Regions from separate parts of the Homo sapiens genome. Here regions 1, 2, 3, 4 and 6 are each linked to region 5. Evidence: fine-mapped expression QTL. A gene starts in region 5. Each other region holds a variant in brackets. All regions are shown on one strand. Distances are from middle to middle.

Evidence for each region. PIP is the estimated chance that this variant, and not a neighbour inherited with it, causes the effect.
Region 1: its variant is the best candidate, but not a certain one, in a credible set for the expression of KCTD7 in whole blood (TOPMed, PIP 0.57).
Region 2: its variant is the best candidate, but not a certain one, in a credible set for the expression of KCTD7 in blood mononuclear cells (TOPMed, PIP 0.56).
Region 3: its variant is the best candidate, but not a certain one, in a credible set for the expression of KCTD7 in whole blood (INTERVAL, PIP 0.51).
Region 4: its variant is the best candidate, but not a certain one, in a credible set for the expression of KCTD7 in whole blood (TOPMed, PIP 0.52).
Region 6: its variant is the best candidate, but not a certain one, in a credible set for the expression of KCTD7 in whole blood (TOPMed, PIP 0.81).

The regions. Positions count from the first base shown.
Region 1 is chr7:65,836,040-65,840,126 of GRCh38, forward strand. It overlaps LINC03129 (long intergenic non-protein coding RNA 3129), which reads left to right and starts at 3,665. Exons shown (of 1, transcript XR_002956508.2): 1 at 3,665-4,087. RefSeq lists an enhancer at 3,003-3,514. The variant T/C (reference allele first, on the strand shown) is at 1,989.
Region 2 is chr7:65,984,096-65,988,182 of GRCh38, forward strand. No RefSeq gene overlaps it. Among named protein-coding and RNA genes, the nearest start is that of GUSB, 3.9 kb to the left of the region's middle. The variant C/T (reference allele first, on the strand shown) is at 2,339.
Region 3 is chr7:65,687,987-65,692,073 of GRCh38, forward strand. The region is part of intron 3 of LINC03006 (long intergenic non-protein coding RNA 3006); the gene reads right to left. It also overlaps the pseudogene INTS4P2. Among named protein-coding and RNA genes, the nearest start is that of SNORA22, 65 kb to the right of the region's middle. The variant G/A (reference allele first, on the strand shown) is at 2,178.
Region 4 is chr7:66,326,992-66,331,078 of GRCh38, forward strand. All of the region lies in intron 3 of TPST1 (tyrosylprotein sulfotransferase 1), which reads left to right. Among named protein-coding and RNA genes, the nearest start is that of LINC00174, 71 kb to the right of the region's middle. The variant A/G (reference allele first, on the strand shown) is at 2,122.
Region 5 is chr7:66,627,158-66,631,244 of GRCh38, forward strand. KCTD7 (potassium channel tetramerization domain containing 7) reads left to right here and starts at 1,724. Exons shown (of 4, transcript NM_153033.5): 1 at 1,724-2,051. The coding sequence starts at 1,908. RefSeq lists silencers at 305-504, 1,515-2,084.
Region 6 is chr7:65,970,890-65,974,966 of GRCh38, forward strand. GUSB (glucuronidase beta) reads right to left here. Exons shown (of 12, transcript NM_000181.4): 6 at 4,030-4,077; 7 at 3,637-3,815; 8 at 3,406-3,552. Among named protein-coding and RNA genes, the nearest start is that of GUSB, 9.3 kb to the right of the region's middle. RefSeq lists an enhancer at 3,102-3,812. The variant G/A (reference allele first, on the strand shown) is at 1,634.

The sequences.
Region 1 (4,087 bases), 790 kb before region 5:
TGTTTTTACAATTATGCTGTATGACACATATTGTTCCATAGCCTTGAAAATGATAATTTTTAATGAAAATTATTTTTAATTGAGAGGAATAATAATAAAAGTAGCAGCTGGCCAGGTGTGGTGGCTCACACCAGTAATCACAACACTTTCGGAGGCTGAGGTAGGAGGATGGCTTGAGGCCAAGAGTTTGAGACAGGCCTCGGAAACCAAAGGAGACACCATCCCTACAGAAAAGTACATGAATTATCCTAGTGTGGTGACATGTTCCTGTAGTCCCAGCTACTTGGGAGGCTGCTGTGGGAAGATCACTTGAGTCCAAGGAGGTTGAGACTGCAGTGAGTCGTGATCAGGCCTCTGCACTCCAGCCTGGGTGACAGAGTGAGACCCTGTCTCAAAGCAACAAAAAAGTAGCAGCTAACATTAACTGACCTTTTACCAGGTGCCTATAAATACCATAGTATAATTTCTTATAACTGTTTCTTACTTAACTTAACCACTCTGTTTTCAATTACTCCCAGAATTTCACTGTGTTTATGCAGATGACCTTTTGTTTAGATTGAATTGTCTCCCCAAGGTATTTCCAGAAGTAAGATTACTGTGAGTCATGGTGAATGGGCATTCTCATTGCCCTTGATGTACATTGACAAGGTTTTGGGTGCCTCCTGGCTATAATCCCAGCCCTTTGGAGGCTAAGACAGGAGGATTGCTTGAGGCCAAGAGTTGGAGGAGGCAGTAAGGTGAGACCCTGTCTCTATTATTTTAAAAAATTGCCAACCTTTACCTTGGAAGACTATGTACAATTTAAACACCCCTCCTAGTATAAGAAAGTGTCCATTTCACTGCACCTTTGCCTGCACAGGGTATTATAATTTAATAAGTTATTTTTTGTTTGATTATTTTAAATAGATAAAATACCGCATATTACTTGGTCACATTTCAGCATCTTCCCTTAGCTTATTAGCTCTATTTCTTTTCTGTCTGTAAATGGTTGTTGTTGTTGTCGTTTTGTTGTTTTGTTTGAGACGGGGTCTTGCTGTGTCACCCAGGCTTGACTGTAGTGGCATAATCATGACTCACTGTAGCCTTGACCTCCCAGGCTCAAACTATTCTCTTACTTCAGCTTCCTGAGTAGCTGGGACTACAAGTGTGCACCACCACTCCCAGCTAATTTTTTTCTTTTTTTGGATAGAGACAGGGTCTCACTGTGTTGTCCAGGCCAATCTCTAGCTCCCGGCCTCAATCAGTCCTCCTGTGTTGGCTTCTTAAATTGCTGGAATTTCAGGCATGAGCCACCATGCCTGGCCTGGGCTAGTCCTATATTCTCTGGAGTTCTCTTTACTTTGTGCTAGCCAGTCTCTCATTATGCTGTTCCCCTGTTACAATGAATAATTCTCTGTATTAAATTTACCACTTTAAACTTTTGAGTGGTTTATGTCTCCTGGTTGGACTCTAATATGCTAAGAAGGGTCCCTGGAGATAGACTCACACAGATGGGATTTGGGGATAGGTTTGGTTATCCAAGGGGCAGTGCTGAGCTCCTTGCCAATGGGAAACGGAATGCTGGTGATTTCCAGGAAGTGACCTCACAATGACTCAAGCTACTGCTTACTGTTGATTGTGATGAAATGCCAGCTGAGGCACATGCCTTGGGAGCTAAGTGGTTGCTGCACTTGACCGCTATGAAGACTGGTGTGGGAATGGTCCTTTTGGATGCACTTCAGCAGGGGTCCCCAACCCCTGAGCCATGGAGCTGTAAGGAGCCACACAGCAGGAGGTGAGTGGTGTTGAGTGAGGGAAGCTGCATCTGTATTTACAGCCACTCCCCATTGCTCACATTCCCGCCTGAGCTCCGCCTTCTCTCAGATCAGCAGCAGCATTAGATTCTCATAGGAGCATGCATCCTATGCAAACCGTGCATGCGAGAGATCTGGGTTGTGCTGTCCCTATGAGAATCTAATACCTGATTATCTGTCACTTTCTTCCATCAA[T/C]TCAGATGGGACCATCTTGTTGCAGGAAAATAAGCTTAACATGTCCACTGATTCTACATTATGGTGAGTTCTATAATTATTTCATTATATACTACAATGTAATAATGGAAATAAAGTGCCTAATAAATGTAATGCGCTTGAATCTTTTGGCTCAGCTCCTGCCTCCCGGCAGCCTCTCCAGGTCCAGAACTTTCTCCAGTCGGCCTCTACGGGCCAAGCTTGTGGCTCACAATGGCCTATTTAGGCCCATACCCTACCTCATGGCAGTCTCCACAGATGAGGCTGCTGCCTCATGGCAGCCCCCACAGGCCCAGCTCCATCATTACAATGGCCTCTTTAGGCCCAACTCCTGCCTCCCAGCCTTCTCTCCAGGCCCAGAGAGAAGGTTCTCAAGTCAACCTCACCAGGCCCAGCTACTGCCTCTCATCAGCCTCCCAAGGGCCATCTTTTGCCTCACAGCCACCTTCCAAGACTCAGCTCCTGTTTTACAGTGGACTCTTGAGGCCCACCTTTTGCCTCCCAGTGGCCTGTACAGGCCCAGCTCCTGCCATACAACAGTCTCTTTAGTCCGAGCTCCTGCCTCTGGGCAGCCTATACAGGCCCAAAATGTCCATAAGTCAGCCTCTCAAGGCCAAGCTCCTGCCTTCTTCCGTTGGCCTCTCCAGACCCAGCTGCTGCCTCCAGGTGGCCTCTAAAGGCTGAGGTTTCTCCTGGCTGTGCCTGGAGGCCCAGCTCCTGCCTCACAACAACCTCTTTTGGTTCAGCTCCTGCCCAGCTCCTGGTGGCCTTTGTAGGCCCAAAACTGCCTCAAGTCAAGCTCTCCAGACCCACCTTCTGCCTCCCAATGGCCTGGACAGGCCCAGCTCCTGTGTGACAACAGCATCTCCAGGCCCAGCTCTTGCCTCCCAGCTGACTCTCCAGGCCCAGCTTTTGCCTCACGGAGGTCTTCCCTGAACAAGTTTCTACCTGCCTCCCGGCAGCCTCGACAGGCCCAGGTCCTGCCTCACACTAACCTCATTACGCCCAGCTCATGCCTCACGGCAGCCTCTCCAGGCCCAGCTCCTGCCTCCGACGGGCTGTCCAGGCCCAAAACTTCCTCAAGTCGCCTCTTCAGGCACAGCTCCTGCCTAACACTGGCCTCTTTAGGCACAGCTCATGCCTCTCAGTGGCCTCTCCAGGCCCAGCTCCCGCATCCCGGTGGCTTCTCCAGACTGAGAACTTTCTCAAGTCTGCCATTTCAGCCCAAACTCCTGCCTCCCATTGGCCTCTACAGGCCCAACCTCTGCCTCACAGCAGACTTTCCAGGCCCAGTATCTGCCTCACCACAGCCTCCCAGGCAAAGCTCCTGCCTTTCGGCAGCCTCTACAGGCCTAGCTCCTGCCTCCCAGTGGCCTCTCTAGGCCAAGCTCCTGCCTCATGGTGGCCATTCCGGCCCAGCTTTTGCCTTTTTGCAACCTCTTTAGTCACAGAACTTCCACAAGTGAGCCTCTCCAGGCCCAGTTCTTCCTCCTAGCTGAATCTCCAGGCCCACCTCCTGCCTCACAACAATCTCTTTTGGCTCAGCTCCTGCCCAGCTCCTGGAGGCCTTTGTAGGCCCAAAACTTCCTCACGTCAAGCTCACCAGCACAATCTTCTGCCTCTTGGTAGCCTGGATAGGCCCAGCTCCTGCATGACAATGGCCTTTCCAGGCCCAGCTCTTGCTTCACGGAGGTCATCCCTGGCCAAGTTCCTGCCTACCTCCCAGCAGCCTTGACAGGCCCAGCTCCTGCCTCACACTGGCATCATTAGGCCCAGTTCATGCCTCACGGTGGCCTCTCCAGGCCCAGTTCCTGCCCCTGACAGACTCTCTAGGCCAAAATCTTCCTCAAGTCGGCCTCTCCAGGCCGATCTCTTGTCACACTGGTCTCTTTAGGCCCAGCTCATGCCTCTTGGCAGCCTCTTCAGGCCCAGCTTTTGTGTCCTGGCAGCCTCTCCAGGCCCAGCTCCTGCCTTCTGTCAGCCTCTACGGGCCCAATATCTGCCTCACAGCAGATTCTCCAGGCCCAGCATCTGCCTCACCGTGGCCCCCCACAAGCCAAGCGCCTGCCTTTCAGCAGCCT
Region 2 (4,087 bases), 640 kb before region 5:
CTCACGCCTGTCATCCCAGCACTTTGGGAGGCTGAAGCAGGCAGATCACCTGAGGTTGGGAGTTCGAGACCAGCCTGACCAATATGGAGAAACCGCATCTCCATATTTAGCTGGGCATGGTGGCACATGTCTGTAATCCCAGCTACTCGGGAAGGCTGAGGTGAGAGAATCGCCTGAACCAGAGATTGCAGTGAGCCGAGATCACGCCATTGTACTCCAGCCTGGGCAACAAGAGTGAAACTCCTACAAAAAAAAAGAAAAAGGAAAACAAGTGCCCAGCTTGACCTCTTGACTCAGGGTTTCATAGATTGGCATCCTTCCAGGATCTTGCCACTCCTGATTCCTTAGCTGGGGCTCTGAACATACATTCTTAGACCATAAAGTCATTCGCAGGGTGCACAACAGTTACGGATGTCAGGTGCCTCTGCCATACAGAGGGAGCCCTCATGTCCTAGGAAGCTGGCCTGGACACAATTGTTTGTATGATTACTCCCCCACCCCCTTTTTTCATGCTCACCAAATCCACCTTCTGAAAATGGACCTCAATACTGGAAATGGAGTCCCCAGCATAGTGAAAATAAGTACATTCTGGGAACTGACAAGGCCTAAAGGCTCTCTCCCAAATGTTTACATTGTTTTTTTATTTTCATATTTTCTTTTTTTAAATTTTACTTTTATATTTCATTAGTGAAATCTTGACATGCTTAAATTAGAATACAGTTCACTGTTTATGAGGCAGCTTTAGGCCAAATTTAACAAAAGTAAGAAAAAGTAGGATGCAGACGTTTATACAGTATGTAAAAATCAGTAATTCAGGCCAGGGGCAGTGGCTCACGCCTATAATCCCAGCACTTTGGGAGGCTGAGGCGGGCAGATCACCTGAGGTCAGGAGTTCAAGACCAGTCTGGCCAACAAGGTAAAACACCATCTCTACTAAAAATACAAAATTTAGCCAGGCATGGTGGCAGGTGCCTGTAATCCCAGCTACTAGAGAAGTTGAAGCAGGAGAATCACTTGAACCCGGGAGGTGGAGGTCACAGTGAGCCAAGATCACACCACTGCACTCCAGCCTGGGGGAACAGAGCAAGACTCTGTCTCAAAAAATTAAAAAAAGAAAAGAAAAGAAAAAAGAGTGAGAATCACTAATTGCCACGAGAATGGCACCATGCCATTCATGAGGGACCTGCCCCTATGACCTAAACACCTCCCACAAGGCCCCACTTCCAACATTGAGAATCAAATTTCTTTTTCTTTTTCTTTTTCTTTTTTTTTTTTTGAGACAGAGTTTCGCTCTTGTTGCCCCAACTGGAGTGCAATGGTGCCATCTTGGCTCATCACAACCTTCGCGTCCCAGTTTCAAGCAATTCTCCTGCCTCAGCCTCCCGAGTAGCTGGGATTACAGGCATGCATGCCCGGCTAATTTTGTATTTTTAGTAGAAATGGGGTTTGTTCATGTTGAGGCTGGTCTCAAACTCCTGACCTCAGGTGATTCGCCTGCCTTGGCCTCCCAAAGTGCTGGGATTACAGGCGTGAGCCACTGGGCCCAGTGGGGAATCAAATTTCAACACAACACTTGGTGGGGCCAAACAAACCATAACCAAACCACAGGATAGGTACTATTATTACTACCATTTCTCAAATGTGGAAACTGAGACACATGAAGGTTCAGTAACTTTTCTAACACCACAGAGCTAGTAAGATGCAGAACTGGGAATCTGACCTAATCAATCTGTTTCCAAGTGTTTATGCTGTCACTCTGAATCACTCTGCCATACCACCTGGCAAAGGCTTTTTTTTCTTGAGAAAGTGTCTTGCACCCAGGCTGCATCACAGTTTACTGTAGCCTCGACCACCTGGGCTCAGGTGATCCTCCTGCCTTAGCCTCCCAAGTAGCTGGGACTACAGACACATGCCATCACACCCAGCTAATTTTTAAAAAAATTTTTATTTATGTATTTTTTTTTTGAGACGGAGTCTCACTCTGTCGCCCAGGCTGGAGTACATTGGAACAATCTCAGCTCACTGCAACCTCCGCCTCCCAGGTTCAAGCGATTCTCCTTCCTCAGCTTCCTGAATAGCTGGAATTACAGGTGCATCACCATGCCTGGCTAATTTTTGTATTTTTAGTAGAGACGGGGTTTCACTATGTTGGCCAGGCTGGTCTTGAACTCCTGACCTCAGGTGATCTGCCTGCCTCGGCCTCCCAAAGTGCTGGGATTACAGGTGTAAGCCTTCATGCCTGACCCTATGTCCAGCTAATTTTTACAACATTTTGTTGGCCAGGTGTGGTGGCTCACACCTGTAATCCTACCACTTTGGGAGGCCAAGGCAGGTGGAT[C/T]ACCTAAGGTCAGGAGTTCAAGACCAGCCTGGCCAACATGGCAAAAGCCCATCTCCACTAAAAATACAAAAATTAGCCGAGTGTGGTGGTGCACACCTGTAATCCCAGCTAATGGGGAGGCTGAGGAAGGAGAATTGCTTGAACCTGGGAGCTGGAGGTTGCAGTGAGCTGAGATCACAGCACTGCACTCCGGCCTGCGAGAAGGGAGCAAGACTCCATCTCAAAAAAAAAACAAAACATTTTTTAGTCTGGGCATGGTGGCTCATGCCTGTAATCCCAGCATTTTGGGAGGCTGAGGCAGGTGGATCACCTGAGGTTGGGAGTTTGAGACCAGCCTGACCAACATGGAGAAACCCTCATTTCTACTGAAAATGCAAAATTAGCCAGACATGGTGGTGCATGCCTGTAAACCCAGCTACTCGGGAGGCTGAGGCCGGAGAACCACTTGAACCAAGGAGGCGGAAGTTGGAGTGAGCCAAGATCTCACCATTGCACTCCAGCCTGGGCAACAAGAATGAAAGTCTGTCTCAAAAAAAAAAAAAGTTTGTATTCAGGGTTTCACTATGTTGCCTAGGCTGGCCTTGAACTGCTGGCCTCAAGCAATCCTCCCAGCTCAGGCTCCCAAAGTGTTGAGATTACAGGCATGTTACCCAGGATAATCTCGATCTCCTGACCTCATGATCCGCCTGCCTTGGCCTCCCAAAGTGCTGAGATTACAGGAGTGAGCCACCATGCCTGGCCTGATCTGTTTCTTTTTCAGAGACACAGATACTATCCAACATTTTTCTTTTTTCTTTCTTTCTTTCTTTCTTTCTTTCTTTTTTTTTTTTTTTTTTTTTTTTTTTTTGAGACAGAGTCTCACGCTGTTGCCCAGGCTGGAGTGCAGTGGTACAATCTCAGCTCACTGCAACCTCCACCTCCCAGGTTCAAGCAATTCTCCTGCCGCAGCCTAATAAGAAGCTGGGATTACAGGTGCTCACCACCACAACTGGATAATTTTTGTATTTTCAGTAGAGACGGGGTTTCACCATGTTGGCCAGGCTGGTCTCAAACTCCTGACCTCAGGTGATCCTCCAGCCTTGGCCTCCCAAAGTGCTGAGGTTACAGGCATGAGCTGCCATACCTGGCCAGCCATTCAACATTTTTCTGATATCTTTGTTTTAGCTGTTGTGTTTTGCTGAATTAAAGCATCTGAATTTGGTAAGCATTTGTAAATCAAAGAAAATTACTGAAGCGTGTCTCAGTCATTTTTAGAGGTCATTTTGTGAAAGTTGAGGATGCAGTGGGAGGAAAAAAGAAATAAAAACCACAGGAAATATTTGTGATGCATGCTTTTTTTTTCCAAAGACGGTCTGGGGACTTCAATATTTAAAGGGAAAAAGAGGCCGGGCTGGGTGGCTCATGCCTGTAATTCCAGCACTTTGGGAGGCCTAGGCAGGCGGATCACCTGAGGTCAGGAGTTTGATATCAGCCTTGCCAACATGGTGAAACCCCGTCTCTACCAAAAATACAAAAATTAGCTGGGTGTGGTGGCACATGCCTGTAATCCCAGCTACTCGGGAGGCTGAGGCAGGAGAATTGCTTTAACCCAGGAGGCAGAGGTTGCAGTGAGCCGAGATCACACCACTGCACTGCAGCTTGGGCAACAGAGCAAGACTCGGTCTTAAATAAATAAATAAATAAAGGGAAAGAAAGTGAGTAGTAGGGGAAGGCAAAATAAAAAAACAAGTGGGGAGGGAGAACAAATTG
Region 3 (4,087 bases), 940 kb before region 5:
GGTGGAATTTGCCTTTTTTTTTTTTCCTGCTATGTCAAGATCCTACCCTGCCTAGAAAAACTCACTTCTTTATTCAACAAGCACTGTCTATGTATTAGAAATATAGGGATATCAAAACAGACAGGATCCCTGCTGTCATAAAACTTATATTCTAAAGAGAGGTGGAGTAAACAAACAAAATGATTTCAGATGGTGATAAATGTTTTGCAGAAGATAAACAGTATGATGGAGGAATGGGGAATTTCTCTGTAATTTGAGTGGTTAGTAAAGACTTTCTGAGGAGATGATGTTCAAGTTGAGTCTTGAATGGTAAACAGAAGCTAGCTATGTGAAGACCGGGAGAATAAATTCAGGTAGAGGCAACAGCTAGTGGGAAGGCTCTAAAACACAAGTGAGCTTTGTTGTGTTTGCAGAATAGAGAGAAAGCCAGTAGGAGTGAACCACAGTGAGAAAGTAGAAATGTGGCATGAAATGAAGTCTGAGAGGGGATTAGGGAGAGGTGGAGAGCCTTGTAGGCCATTTTAAGATGTCTGGATTTTATTCTAACATTATGGAAAACTGTTGCAGAATTTTATGGATAGGAGTGACATTTCGATTTGCCTCTCTTTTAACATTTCTCATTCTTGAAATCTTGAAATTCACTTCAGATAGATCGACTCTTTCCCTCACTCCTCCATTTAGCACATACAGGTATACCTCTCTTTATTGGGCTTTGCAGATATTGTATTTTTTTAATAAATTGAGAGATTGCGGCAACCATGCATTGAGCAAGTCTATCAGTGCCATTTTTCCAATAGCATGTGCTCACTTTATGTCTGTGTCACATTTTGGTAATTCTTGCAATATTTCAAACTTTTTCATTATTACATCTGTTACAGTGATCTGTGATCAGTGATCTTTGATGTTACTGTTGTAATTGCTTTGGGATGCCACAAACTGTGCCTGTATAAGATGGCAAACTTAGTAAGTGTGTGTGTTCTGAGTGTTCTGCTAACTGGCCATTCCCAGCCTCTCTCTTAGCCTTTCTTCTTAGCCTGTCCTTTTTCCTAGTTGCAAAAAGGCTCTTGTACCTTCAGCATCATGATTGAGTCCCAGATAGGATGGAAAAGGAAGGTTAAAGAAGAAAGGGGATAAAGCTACTGCCTCTGGTCCTTTATCAATAAAATGAAAGATATTTCAGGAATTTCATCCAAAAAACTTCCACATACTTTGTTACATGGCCACCCTAGATGGGAAGGTGGCTGGGGAGAAGGGGATGGTAGATAGAGGCTGAGTCTGCTAACCAACAGTAACTACTATTATTATTACTTTTTTTTAAAAGGATTCAGCCAGAGATATTCGAGAGGCTCTTCATGAACTCTTATGCTGTACTAATGTTTCAACCAAAGAAGGGATTCATCTTGCATTGGTGGAGCTGCTGAAAAATTTAACCAAGTACCCTACTGATAGGGACTCCATATGGAAGTAATGACTTTTTTGCCCATTTACTCACTGAGTCGCATAATGTGGTAAATGTACAATGCTGACATTTGTTCCGTCCTTATAGATTGAGGGTGGTACGGCCCTGAATTTTGCCTTTACTTTAGAAACCTGATTGAACTTAACCGCTCTCAGGAATCTGATTCCTAAGCTGAATATCACATTTTAGATTACTTACTAATTTGTGCATCTATCCACCTAGCAAATATTATGTGCCTGCTGTGTGCTGACTACGCACCAACCCTTGTGGTAGCTGTTACAAGTATAGAAATAAATTAATTAGATTTCCTCTTTCTCCTATATAGTGTTTTGTTTTGTTACTTTTTTTTTTTGAGATGGAGTCTCGCTCTGTCACCCTGACTAGAATGCAGTGGCGTGATCTCAGCTCACTGCAACTTCTGCCTCCTGGGTTCAAGCGATTCTCCTGCCTCAGCCTCTCGAGTAACTGGGATTATAGGTGCACGCCACCATACCCAACTAATTTTTGTTTTTTTTTTTAGTAGAGATGGGGTTTTACCATGTTGGTTAGGCTGGTCTTGAACTCCTGACCTCAGGTGATCCACCTGCCCTGGCCTCCCAAAGTGCTGGGATTACAGGCATGAGCCACTGTGCCCGGCCTTATTATTTTTTATTCATTAAGTTCTGGTTTAGAAGGTGCACTTAATTGGCTGGGTGCAGTGGCTCACGCCTATAATCCC[G/A]GCACTTTGGGAGGCTGGGGCGGGTGGATCACCTGAGGTCAGGAGTTCAAGACCAGCCTGGCCAACATGGTGAAACCTCATCTCTACTAAAAATGCAAAAATCTGCTGGGCGTAGTGGCACATGCCTGTAATCCCAGCTACTCGGGAGGCAAAGGCAGGAGAATCGCTTGAACCCTGGAAGCAGAGGTTGCAGTGAGCCGAGATTGTGCCACTGCATGCCAGCCTGGGCAACAGAGCAAGACTCAGTCTCAAAAAAAAAAAAAAAAAACCATAAACAATAATAAAAATGTATAATTACCTTGCTTGTATAGTTCCTTATAGTTTATAAAGGGCCCTCAGGTAGTTATAATAGCTAACATTGAGTTCTTACTATGTGACAGACACTTTGCTGAGTACTTTATGTTAGTTATTTAATGCATATAGCAACTCTATGAAGTAATGACTTTTAATCTCATTTTGTAGATGAAAAAATTTACTTGCATAAGGCTACTTAGTTTCAGACAGATCTGTGATTTCAGGACTTCACCCAGGATATCAATTAGAATGTTTTTGCCCACAAATAAAAAAGACAATCTGATTAAAAATATCTTAGCCAATAAGTCTGTTTTTTCATAACGAGGTCAGAAGGTTGGTTTCAGGATTGGTCATTCAACAGGTTACCAGGGCTCTCTTTGGTTTCTCTGCAGTTCTCTTGGCTCTTTTTTTTTTTTTTTTTTTTTTGAGACAGAGTCTCTCTTTATCGCCAGGGTGGAGTGCATTGGCATAATATCGGCTCACTGAACCTCCGCCTCCCAGGTTCAAGCGATTCTCCTGCCTCAGCCTCCCGAGTAGCTGGGACTACAGGCCCGTGCCGCCATGCCCAGCTAATTTTTGTATTTTTAGCAGAGATGGGGTTTCACCATGTTGGCCAGGATGGTCTTGATCTCTTGACCTCCTGATCCAGCCATCTTGGCCTCACAAAGTGTTGGGATTATAGGCGTGAGGCACCGCACCCGGCCGGCTTTCTTCTCATGGTTGTAAGATGGCTGCCTCATAAGATAATATCTCAAGACAGAAAGGAAGGGTCATTCCCTTTCATGCATTGCTCTTTTGATTTGCAAAAACATCCCTGAGAAGCTCCCCAGCCAGCATACTCTCGTGCTCCATTGTCTAGAACTGGCTTACTTGCGTACCAGCAAACCAGTCACTGGAAAATGGGAATGGGGTTGCCATGATGGGTTTAGACCAATAGTGGTTCAGCTCTTGGGCTGGACCTGCCTTTTCCGAGCACTTTGCTGCCTGCCTGATACCTGAGTAAAATCAGGGCTCTCTCAGGAAGAAAGATGGGGGAAATGGCTGTTGGTTAAATAAACAGTTCTTTTATCTTTATAATAACCAGTTTTTTTAGATGAATTAACCAAGTTCCAGAATAACTGGGTGACTTATCTGAAGTCATAGAGTTAGCAAAAGTATATGGTTGAGAATTTCCAATTCCAGTTCAGGTTTTCTGATTCCAGTTCCTAGTACTTTTCAAAGGACTAACTTTACTAATTTGTTGATGTGCATTCTTATTTGTTTGTTTCAGGTGCTTGAAGTTTCTGGGAAGTCGGCATCCAACCCTGGTGCTTCCCTTGGTGCCAGAGCTTCTGAGCACCCACCCATTTTTTGACACAGCTGAACCAGACATGGATGATCCAGCTTGTATCCTCTGTGCTTAGGATGGGCCCTGATGTGTTGGCAGGCAGCTTTGGCATCTCCTTCTGCAGTGTAGCTAGGGTGGTCTGAGTTTTCTTTTCTTTGCTTTTCTTTCCTTTTTTTTTTTTTGAAGACAGAGTCTCATTCTGTCACCCAGGCTGGAGTGCAGTGGCTTGATCTCGGCTCACTGAAACCTCTGCCTCCCGGGTTCAAGCAATTCTCCTGCCTCAGCCTCC
Region 4 (4,087 bases), 300 kb before region 5:
TATCAGCTGTTTTACAGTATTTGTGTTTTAGAGATAATGAGCATCTGGTGGACCACAGGAGCCCAGGGGGATTTCAAACTCCAGATTCCTTTTTGTGTAATCATATCTGGCTGGAGTTATTTGTTTTCTCTGCATGTGAAACTATCAAGTCATAATTCTTCAAAGGGGAATGTTTATTGCATTATTTAAAAATAATAAATTATATTACTAAATAAATAACAGCAGGCCAGGCATAAACCAATGATGAAAGTTTGTCAGAAACTAAGGCTTCTGATTAATTCTGTGCTCTGGACTATAATTGGAAGGAAGGATTATATTAGAGTTTACAATGAGTTTACAGAAAGAAAGGAGAGGGATAAATTATATTTAGTTCACAGTAAATCTGAATTCAGAACCCCTGGTTGTAAGACTAGTCTTTTAACCTTTAGAGTTAAAAAATGTATATGTACAGCTGGGTGCAGTGGTTCACGCCTGTAATCCTAGCACTTTGGGAGGCCAAGGTGGGTGGATCGCTTGAACCCAGGAGTTTGAGACCAGGATGGGCAAAATGGCAAAACCCTGACTCTATAAAAAATACAAAAATTAGCTAGGTGTGGTGGCAGGTGCCCATAGTCCTAGCTACTCAGGAGGCTGAGGTGGGAGGATCCCTTGAGTCTGGGAGGTCAAAGCTGCAGTGAGCCGTGATTGTGCTACTGTACTCCAGCCTGGGTGACAGAGAAAGACCCTGTCTTAAAAAAAAAAAAAAGTGCGTGTGTGTGTGTGTATGTACGTTGAAGAAAACTATGAGAAAAAGCAAAAATGTAGAGTCCATAATGCATAATGTTGTGTTAAGCACATAGTTTAGTCATTGGTACATATTTCTGGAGATGGTCTAAAGATCTATTTTTTAAAAACTGATTTTAGTTAAATCAGAGGTTAGCAAATCACAGCCTGCAGGCCAAATCTGGCCTATCATACATTTTGTTTGTCTCTTTGTTGTGTTTTTGGTGTTTTTTTTTCTTTCTTTTTTTTTTCCTTTCCTTTTTTTTTTTTTTTTTTTTTTTTTTTTGAGACAGAGTCTTGCTCTGTTACCCAGACCAGGCTGGAGTGCATTGGTGCGATCTCAGCTCACTGCAACCTCTGTCTCCCAGGTTCAAGCAATTCTCCTGCCTCAGCCTCCTGAGTAGCTGGGATTATAGGTGTGCACCACCATGCCCAGCTAATTTTTGTATTTTTAGTAGAGATGGGGTTTTACCATGTTGCCCAGGCTGGTCTCAAACTCCTGAGCTCAGGCAATCTTCTCGCCCCAGCCTCCCAAAGTGCTGGGATTACAGACGTGAGCCACCGCGCCTGGCCCTATCATACATTTTGGTAAATAAAGTTTTATTAGAACATACTATGCTCAATCATTTATATGTTTTGTGTGGCTGCATTTGCCCTGCAGCAGTAGAGCTGAGTAGTTGGAACAGAGACTGTGGTTCATACAACCTAAAATATTTACCCTGGCCTTTGTTACAGAATAGGTTGCTAACCTCTGAGTTTCTCAGTTTTAGCCCATTCACAAATGAAATAGTTTTTTTTTGTTGTTTTTTTTGAGACAGCCTCACTCTGTCGCCCAGGCTGGAGTGCAGTGGCATGATCTTGGCTCACTGCAACCTCTGCCTCTTGGGTTCAAGCAATTCTCTTGCCTAAACCTCCTGAGAAGTTGGGACTATAGGCACATGCCACAACGCCTGGCTAATTTTTGTATTTTTAGTAGAGACCAGGTTTCGCCATGTTGACCAGGCTGGTCTTGAACTCCTGGCATCAAGTGATCTGCCTGTCTTGGCCTCCCAAAGTGCTGGGATCCCAGCCTCTCTCTCTCTCTTTCTCACTCTCTCTCTCTCCCGCTCTCTCTCTCTCTCTCTCTCTCTCTCTATATATATATATATATATATTTTTTTTTTTTTTTTTTTTTTTGAGACAGGGTCTCATTCTGTCACCCAGGCTGGAGTGCAGTGGCATAATCACAGCTCACTGCAGCCTCAACCCCACGGGCTCAAGCAATTCTCCTGCCTCAGCCTCCCAAGTAGCTGGGATTACAGGTGCGCACAACCACGCCCAGCTAATACTTGTATTTTTTTGTAGAGACGAGGCTTCTCC[A/G]TGTTGTCCAGGCTGTTCTCGAGCTCCTGGAACTCAAGCAATCTGCCTCAGGCAGGAATCCTGAAATTCTGGGATTATAGGTGTGAGCCACTTCTCCTGGCCCACAAATGACATATTCCTTATAATCTACTACAGTGAGCTTTGCATGGTTAATATATTTGTTGTGTTGAAACTATCTTCCTGATTTTTTCCAATTTTTTATAGAGAAACCTGGAAAGAATAGTACCATAAATACCTATATACCCTAACAGAGAATTATTGTTAAAATTTTGCCATATTTGCTTTATCTTCTCTGTGCATATGTATACTCACATGGCTTTTTTTTTATTGGTATTAGTTGAAAGTTGCAGATATTATGCTTCCTCAGCGCATATCCCTAAGAATAAAAGCATTTTCCTCGACAACTGATTATGTTAAAATTTGAAGACGTGTATGAGGTTTTTGTTTGTGAGGGCTATATGACTGGCGTTTCTCCAGTATATGACACTTTGTTCATCCCTATGTTCCTCTTTATAAACTGCAGAAATTCTAAATATAATGCATTAGTTGTCTATTGCTTGCAAGTAGTAGACTGAATGATGGCTCCATAAAGATGTCCACTTCCATTAGATAAAGAAAATGTGTACATATACACCATGAAATATTGCACAGCCATAACAAAGAGCGAAATCATGTTCTTTGCAGCAGTTTGGATGGCGCTTGAGGCCATTATCCTAAGTGAATTAATGCAGAAACAGAAAACCAAGTACCTCATGTTCTCACTTGTAAGTGAGAGGTAAACACTGGGTACAAATGGACATAAAGATGGGGACAGTAGACACTGGGAATACAAGAGGGCAGAAGAGGGAAGGAAAAATAAGGGTTGAAAAACTACCTATTGGGTACTGTGCTCACTACCTGGGTGACAGGTTCAATCATATCCCAAACTTCAGCATCACACACTATACCCCTGTAACAAACCTGCACATGTACCCCCTGAATCTAAATAAAAGTTGGAAAAACAAATCAACCCAGATGGCCATTTCCTAATCCCTGGGGTCTGTGAATATGTTACCTTATCTGGCAAAAGGAACTTTACAGATGGAATTAAGGAATTTTAGATGAGGAGATTACCGATCATCTGGTGGGCCTAAAGTAATCACCAGGGTCCTCATAAAGGAGAGGCAAGGGAGTTGAAGGTAGAGAAGGGGCTCTGAAGATGGGAAGCAGAATAAGTGTAGGAAATGTGAGCTTGCCACACTGCTAGTGTTGAAGATGGTGAGGCTAAGAATTTTCACATCCACTTTCAAAACCATTGTGTCCTGGCTCCTTTTAAACCATCTTTCCCTCAATTTCTCTGTCCTCTTACATCTTATTGTAAACACCAAGAAGAAACCTGGCAGTTAACTTTGCTTGGAAATCTTTTTAGCTAGACCATCTAATTCATTCGGCACATTTTCTACCTTCCACATCACTGTAAAATTGGGTTGCTAAACTTTCCACAACTACCTAACAGAGATCCCTTGCCTCCAGTTTCTACTCAGATGTTCCTCACATTCCTTAAAACTCACAGTCCACCTCCTAACAATCTAAAATCTACCAACTATCAATTCCTGGCAATTTAGGCTTTACTGCTCCTCTCCTGAAAGGCCTTAAAGTATTAGAACTGGGCCCTATTATTAGAACCTATTTCCCAGTTCTAATATTCCTCCCACATTTTTGGTATGTGTGACAATGGAACTTTACTCCTGATACCAAAATCTGTATGATTTATATATGAAGCATAACAAATTATTCTAAAACGTATTAATGGCTTAAATCAACAAACGTGTTGTCTCATAGGTTCTGTGGTTCAGGAATCCAGGCAAAGCTACCTAGATGCTTCTAGCTCAGGATCTTTCATGAAGTTGCAGTCAAGCTGTCAGCTGGGCTGCAGTCATCCAAGGCTCAGCTGGGAGAGGATCTGCCTTCAAGCTCTCTCATGTGA
Region 5 (4,087 bases):
CTCTGGTTTCTTTCTACTCTCTAAATTTATGAGATCGATTTGTTTTAGCTGCCACAGATAAGAACATGCAATATTTATGTCTTTCTGTGCCTGGCTTATTTCACTTAACATAATGACGTCCATCCACGTTGCTGCAGATGACGTGATTTCATTCCTTTTCATCTGTGTTTAAACAAGGTCTCCCTCCAGGGATTTTGATGCAACTGAAGTTGGAGAAAACACAGACCTAGGACACTCCTGCAGCTGGGAGTGCGATGGTCTAACAGAGGAAGTGCTATGCCACCAGCTCATCTTTGCCATCCTGGAGCTGTCTAATCTACGACTCAGTTTTCTTTTCTGTCACTACACTGTGAGAATGAGATGAGGAACTGGGTGTGAAAACGGTTTGAAAAGGAGAAGCATGGTTGCACACGCCTGCGATCCCAGCACTTTGGGAGGCTGACGAGGGAGGACAGCTTGAGGCAAGGAGTTTGAGACCAGCCTGGGCAACATGACAAGACCCCATTTCTTAAAAAAAAAAAAAAAAAAAAATTTTTTTTTCTTTTTTGAGACGGAGTTTCGCTCTTGTTGCCCAGGTTGGAGTATAGTGGCCGTGATCTCGCCTCACTGCAATCTCCATCTCCTGGGTTCAAGCGATTCTCCTGCCTCAGCCTCCCTAGTAGCTGGGATTGCAGGTGTGCCACCATGCCTGGCTAATTTTGTATTTTTAGTAGAGATGAGGTTTCACCATGTTGGCCAGGCTGGTCTCAACTTCCTGACCTCAGGTGATCCACCCGCATCGCTTACCAAAGAGCCAGGATTACAGGCGTGAGCCACTGCGCCCGGCCAAAATTTTAAAAAATCAGCTGAGTGTGGTGGTGCGCGTCTGTGGTCCCAGCTACTCGGGAGGCTGGGGCGGGAGGATTGCTTGAGCCCAGGGGTTGCAATGAGCTATGATTGCGCCACTGCACTTCAGCCTGGGTAACAGAGTGAGACTTTGTCTTTTAAAGAAAGGAGAAAATGGCTTGAACGGGCTAAGAACCTTGACCCCCAGGAGACTCCCTGCGCTGATAGAGCCTCTAGGGCTGGACTCCGCCTCCCAGGGAGCCGGGAGCATCTTGGGGAAGGGCCTGTCTCCATCTGTGTGTCCCGGTGGAAAAACGGTCACGGTGGGGAGTCACTGTCATTATTCATTGAACTCAAGCGCTCCTATTTTGGGTTTTCTCGTTCGGATTTCTGCGCGAGCGAGTGAGGAAGAACTGGACACCCGGGCGGTGCCCTGCGGCTCGGGGCGGGGCCAGCCGCGGTGGCGTGTCCGCAGCCACCTCAGCCCTCCTCCCGCCACATCCTCCAGGAAAGGCTGCTCAGGCCTTCCATTGAGGAGACAAGGACCCGCTGCTCTGGGGCCAGACACACGAGTAAGTCGTGACCCCCTGTGTGAAGGGATAAGGCGTCTACCCTGACGCGGGTGAGAACCCTCTTCACGGCAGACTCCGACGCCCAGTTATGAGAGCGTAGCGGCGCACCACCGCCGGGTCTCTCGGAGAGGGCGCGCCCGCTGGCCAGAGGACCAATCAGTGCACGGCAGGCTCGCAGGCCGCCCCCCCCCCCCCCCCCCAACCCAGGGACCACTCAGGCGCCGGCCGCTGGCGCTGCCTGCTCTTCGACTGGGCGAGCTTCCTGCCAATCAGGGCGGAACCAGCGCGGCGTCGGCCAGTAGCGGGAGGCGGTCGGGTCAGGCCCCAGCTGGGCGCGAGCGGGTCGGCGTTGAGGGAGCCACCGCCCTCCCGCCTGCGCACTGCCTCTCGCCCCCCTCCGGCCAGCCCGCAGCCGGCCGCGTCATGCCAGGCGCTGCTCGGCGGTAGGGAGTGCCCGGGGCCGCCGCCTCCGCCCGCCCGAAGCCGCGCCCACTGCCCAGAGCCAGAGGGATGGTGGTAGTCACGGGGCGGGAGCCAGACAGCCGTCGTCAGGACGGTGCCATGTCCAGCTCTGACGCCGAAGACGACTTTCTGGAGCCGGCCACGCCGACGGCCACGCAGGCGGGGCACGCGCTGCCCCTGCTGCCACAGGAGGTACCCGGGCGGGCGGCGGGCCGCGGGGCGTGGGGAGGGGCGCGGGGGAGAAGCGGGCGCGGGGCATAGCGGTCCTCGGCGGGTGGGCGGGGCCGGGGTTGGGGGCGGGGCCCGCGGACTTGCGCCCCTCCCCCGCCCACCTGCAACTCCCCCGCCCACCTGCACCCCTACCCACCCACCTTCAACCCCTGTCAATTACACCCACTAGGTGTGCTTCCCCACCCCCTACACCCTCCGCCCAGTAGTCACTGGGGTGATTTACTCCCATCGCCATGTCCCACTTTTACCGAAGACAGGAGGGAGGGTGGGCCGTGGGAGGGGGACCCTGGAGCCCCGAGAGCTGATGGTGTGTCTGACCAGGCACCGTAGCTCGAGCCTGTAATCCCAACACATTGGGAGGGAGGATCGCTTGAGGGCAGGAGTTGGAGGCCAGCCTGGGCAACATAGCGAGGCCCCGTCCCTACTACGACTGGAAAAACAAAGGCATTTTGGGTTGGATGAATAAAAAAAAGAAAAGAAAAAGATGTCTTCTAGAGAATCCAACAGGATGCTGTAGTGGTTGCCCACACCTAGTCTCCAGCTACCTAAGGAACAAGGCAAGGAGCTGTCTGCACATAAGGGGCAGGCCAGTTCATAGATGTAGGCACGGTCACCTGGCATCCCATGGCTTTCACTCACAGGCTGCTGTGCTCTGGTGCACAGGGGCTTCCACGGGTCTTACTTAATGTGTGTGATACTATCATGTCAACACCTGAAATGACACTCAAGAGACGGGAGAAGATACCAGGCATGGTGGCTCACATCTGTAATCTCAGCAGTTTGGGATGCTGAGGTGGGAGGATTGCTTGATCCCAGCAGTTAGAGACTAGTCAGGGCAACAGTGAGACCCTGCCTCTACAAAAATGAAAATTAGCCAGGCTTGGTGGTGTGTGCCTGTAGTCCCAGGTGCTCAGGAAGGTGAGTTGGGAGGATTGCTTGAGCCCTGGAGGTTGAGGCTGCAGTGAGCTGTAATTGTGCCACTGTACTCCAGCCTGGGTGTGATAGAGTAAGACCGTACCTACAAACAAACAAAAACAAAAAAAGCAAGAGAAGGGAAACGATGCCAGGTGTGGTGGCTTACACTTGTAATCCCAGCACTTTGGGAGGTCAAGGCAGGAGGATGGTTTGAGGCCAGGAGTCTGGGACCAGCTTGGGCAACACAGACTCCATCTCTACAAATAAAAAATAAAGAGGAGGGAAGGTGAAGCATTACTGGACACCGAAGATGGCTTCTAGGAGGCAGGGACTAAGGTAGTGCCAGATCCAGGAGCATGTGGTATGCGGAGTCCCAGGACAATGGAGGCCCTCAACAATTGAGGCCCTCAACAGGCTGGGCTAGGTGATGCTCTTGGGAAGCAGATAGTGTTGTGCTGGGATTGCAAGCCCCATACACACAATGCCATGGGAAAATGAGCAAAAATCTAGAAGTAATCTCTGCAATTGGAAAAAAGTCATTAGTCACAGTGGTGCTATTTTTTTGTGCACTGTCATTGGGAAAATGATATGGTTTGAGGGAAAGAGCACAAGACCACAGATTGCAGACCAGGGCCCCACCACCAGTTCCCCCCACTGATGACATTGCCCCATGTGAGCTCCAAAACTGTTTCCGATGGCTTTTGTCCTCTCTGCTTCAATCCTCTCATCTCTAATATGGAGCAAGCACTTGGATTGGTATGAAGTATCTTTAGAAAAGGTTTAAAGAGCTCCAGAAATGTTAAGTATTATTATTCCAAAATGATATCTGAGCCCTTGATATACACATAAAATGGTTTTAGAGGACCTACAGAATAAGCGCAAGGCATTTTCATGTCCTGTGGGTGCAGAAGAGTAACAGTGCATACACACACGGAAGTGTAACTACCTGTCTATTTCTTTCATTCATTCGGTGAATTTTGGGTCTTTATTTGAGCCAGGCGCTGCACAAGGCCCTGGGTCAGCTTTATTTAATGTATTTGTACCCTATTTTATTTCACAAAGGATTTGAAAGCTGGGAAAGG
Region 6 (4,077 bases), 660 kb before region 5:
AAACAAACAAACAAAAACAAAGGGGAAAAAAAAAAAAGCATGGAGCCGCTGCTTTCTTCCCTAACTTGAGATGTATTTTACATAAGGGCATATGATCCTCTAGTCCTAGACCGAGCTCTCTAACATCACTCCTTCTACCCCCATCTCCGAATCCTATACCCCCAGAGGAGCAGCCACTCTTCCAGGTACACAGAGCTGAGGTCACTAGGCTGGACACTGGCAAAAATGAGGTTGACGCCCTGAAACAGCTCTTGAACACAGGAGGTGGATGGATGCAGATTTGGGAGGGATATTTATTAATGCATCAAGCAAACGGAGTGCAGGCTGGGAGGCAGGCATGGGGCTAGGTGCGAGGTGCTCAGCAGTGACTCAAATCTAAGTCCACAGGTCCTGGGCAGTGGGAGTGGAGACGCATGCAGAGAAATGGTGCAAGTGCCGGGCAAGGCGGCTCACGCCTAGAATCCCAGCACTTTGGGAGTTTTACCAGAGACCAGGAGTTCAAGACCAGCCTGGGCAACATAGCAAGACCTTGTTTCTACAACAAATTTAAAAATTAGGGGCGGGCATGGTGGCTCACGCCTGTAATCCCAACACTTTGGGAGGCCGAGGCGGGTGGATCATGAGGTCAAGAGTTTGAGACCAGCCTGGTCAACATGGTAAAAGTCTATCTCTACAAAAAAATACAAAAAAAACCTAGCTGGGCATGGTGGCATGCGCCTGGAATCCCAGCTACTCATGAGGCTGAGGCAGAAGAATTGCCTGAACCCAGGAGGTAGAGGTTGTAGTGAGCCAAAATTGCACCAGTGCTCTCCAGCCTGGGCAACAAGCAAGACTCCATCTTGCGGAAAAAAAAAAAAAAATTTAAACTTAGCCTGACATGGCCGCACACACCTGTGGCCCCAGCTATTTGGGAGGCTGAGGCAGGCAGATAACCTGAGGTTGGGAGTTCGAGACCAGCCTGACCAACACGGAGAAACCCCATATCTACTAAAAATACAAATTAGCTGGGCGTGGTGGCGCATGCCTGTAATCCCAGCTACTCGGGAGGCTGAGGCGGGAGAATCACTTGAACCCAGGAGGCAGAGGTTGTGGTGAGCCGAGATTGTGCCATTGCACTCCAGCCTGGGCAACAAGTGCAAAACTCCATCTCAAAAAATAAATAAATAAATAAGAAGAAATGGCCCTTAGAAGGGAAGAAAAACCCAACAGAGGGACCCGTCTGTGCTCAGAGCTCCTGGCACCTGCCCGAGGCCTCCACAGTACAGACTGTTTTTGTTTTTGTTTTTTTGAGAGACAGAATCTCACTCTGTAGCCCAGGCTGGAGTGCAATGACATGATCTTGGCTCACTGCAACCTCCACCTCCTGGGCTCAAGCAATTCTCCTGCCTCAGCCTCCCAAGTAGCTGGGATTACAGACGCCCACCTCTGTGTTCCGCTAATTGTTTTATTTTTAGTAGAGACAGGGTTTCAATATCTGTTGGCCACGCCGGTCTCAAACTCCTGACCTCAGGTGATCCACCCACCTTGGCCTCCCAAAGTGCTGGGATTACAGGCGTGAGCCACCGCACCCAGCCTAGACTGTTGTTGAAGCCTGTTTTCCTCTTCTCTTTCCTCAGTTCATTTCTTCTTTTAC[G/A]CCCTCCCCCATCATTGCTCTGCCTATCCGAAGGCTGTGGCTGGCACAGATCAGAAAAGAACCCCCTAGCCTCAAGTTCCAAACCCACACTCTCCAACAGCCAGGCTCTCAGATGGGAAACTTCAAAGCCTGTGACAGCCTGGCTGAACCTCTCCAGCCTGGGTGGCTCCCTCCAAATCCTGCCCCAGAAAACAGGCATCTCCTCTGGCCACCTCCCAAAGAAGCCTCAAACACCTGCTCCTGGAAGCCTGTACTCTTCCCCTTCGCAACAAAGGGCCTGTCCACCCAGTCCTGCTGAGCACACCCCTGTGCCCCCAAGCTCTGAATTGTCCTTGGCCCAGGCTGCAACAACTTCTCAGAGCCTTCTGCCTGCTGCAGACTTGGCTCAGCCCAAAGCACTGCATGAAATTGGGGTGTGCTGTATGAGTCAAGAGGCATTTCTACCACCTCTCCTGCTTCTACCCCAAGTGAAAAATCCAACTCTGAACGCTGAGTTAGAACTGCACGATTGTAAGGAAGAAAAGGGGGCCAGGTGTGGTGGTTCACACCTGTAATCCCAGCACTTTGGGAAGGTGAGGCAGGAGGATCACTAGAGGCCAGGAGTTCCACGCCAGCCTGGCAAACATGGTGAAACCCAGTCTCTAATTAGCCGGGCACGGTGGCTCACGCCTGTAATCCCAGCACTCTGGGAGGCCGAGGTAAGTGGATCTCCTGAGGTCAGTAGTCCAAGACCAGCCTGGCCCAACATAGTGAAACCCCGTCTCTACTGAAAAATGCAAAAGTTGGCCAGGCGTGGTAGCTCACGCCTGTAATCCGAGCACTTCAGGAGGCCGAGGCAGGCGGATCATGAGTTCAAGAGATCGAGACCATCCTAGCCAAAATGGTGAAACCCCGTCTCTGCTAAAAATACAAAAATTAGCAGGGTATGTTGGCGTGTGCCTGTAATCCCAACTCCTCAGGAGGCTGAGGCAGGAGAATCACTTGAACCTGGAAGGTGAAGGTTGCAGTGAGACGAGATTGCGCCACTGCACTCCAGCCTGGCCACGGAGTGAGACTCCATCTCATAAAAAGGAAAAAAGGAAAACTTAGCTGGGCGTGGTGGCATGTGCCTGTAATCCCAGCTACTCGGGAGGCTGAGGCTGGAGAATCACTTGAACCTGAGCGGCAGAGGTTGCAGTGAGCTGAGATCATGCCCCTGCACTCCATCCTGGGCAATAGAGGGAGACTGCATATCCAAAAAATAAAAAATAAAGCAAAAATTAGCTGGGCGTGATGACACACATCTAGAATCCCAGCTACTTGGGAGGCTGAGACAGGAGGATCACCTGAGCCTGGGAAGTCAAGGCTGCAGTAAGCCAAAACTGCACCGCTGCACTCCAACCTGGGCAACCAGAGTGAGAACCCATTTTGAAAAAAAAAAACAGCCCCAGCACAGTGGTTCATGGGTGCCTGTAATCCTAGCTACTCAGGAGACTGAGGCAGGAGAATCACTTGAACCCAGGAGGCAGAGGTTGTAATGAGCGGAGATCACCCCACTGCACTCCAGCCTGGGCCATATAGTGAGACTCCATCTCAAAAAGAAAAAAAAAGAACAAAAAAGAAAACCACAATTTGGGTGGGTAGATATTTGGTCCCCTGAACTATCTGGGTATGGACGGCCTTCCCATTGGGCTGGACACGAGGCCGATCTTGAACAGCACATGCCCACCGAGGCCAGCCACCTGCCAGGGTCTCCTTCCCACTCTAGCCGAGGGCAGGGAGGGAGCACTCACTTCAAGTAGTAGCCAGCAGATTCTAGGTGGGACGCAGGCTCGTTGGCCACAGACCACATCACGACCGCGGGGTGGTTCTTGTCCCTACGCACCACTTCTTCCATCACCTGCATGTGGTGATGCAGAGAAACGTTGTTGAAGAACTGCCTGCGGGCCAGGAGGGAAGGGACAGAGGGTCACGGTGACGCCCCCGGGCTGGGCAGGCGGAGCAGGTGCACAGCAGAGACTCACGGCAGCGCCAGGCCCACGCCGGGACACTCATCGATGACCACAATCCCATAGCGGTCACACATCTGCATCACTTCCTCTGCATAGGGGTAGTGGCTGGTACGGAAAGCGTTGGCACCAAGCCAGCGAAGCAGGTTGAAGTCCTTCACCAGCAGCGGCCAGTCGAAGCCCTTCCCTCGGATCTAGGAGATAGCAGAGCCAAGTGACCCCTGTCCCTGTCGAAGCTGCACTTCCTCTGAGAGCCAGGACCCTGGAGAGCCACCCCATGAGCCCCCTCTCCATTTGGAGCCATTTGCCTCATTGCCCTGAGCTGCCCTCAACTGCAGGACACAGGGAAGGCGAAAGTGGAGGGTGACCAGAAGCAGCCCCGACAAGGACCCAGGAGCCCCAACACACGTCCGCATCCTCATGCTTGTTGACACCGTGGAAATAGAAAGGTTTCCC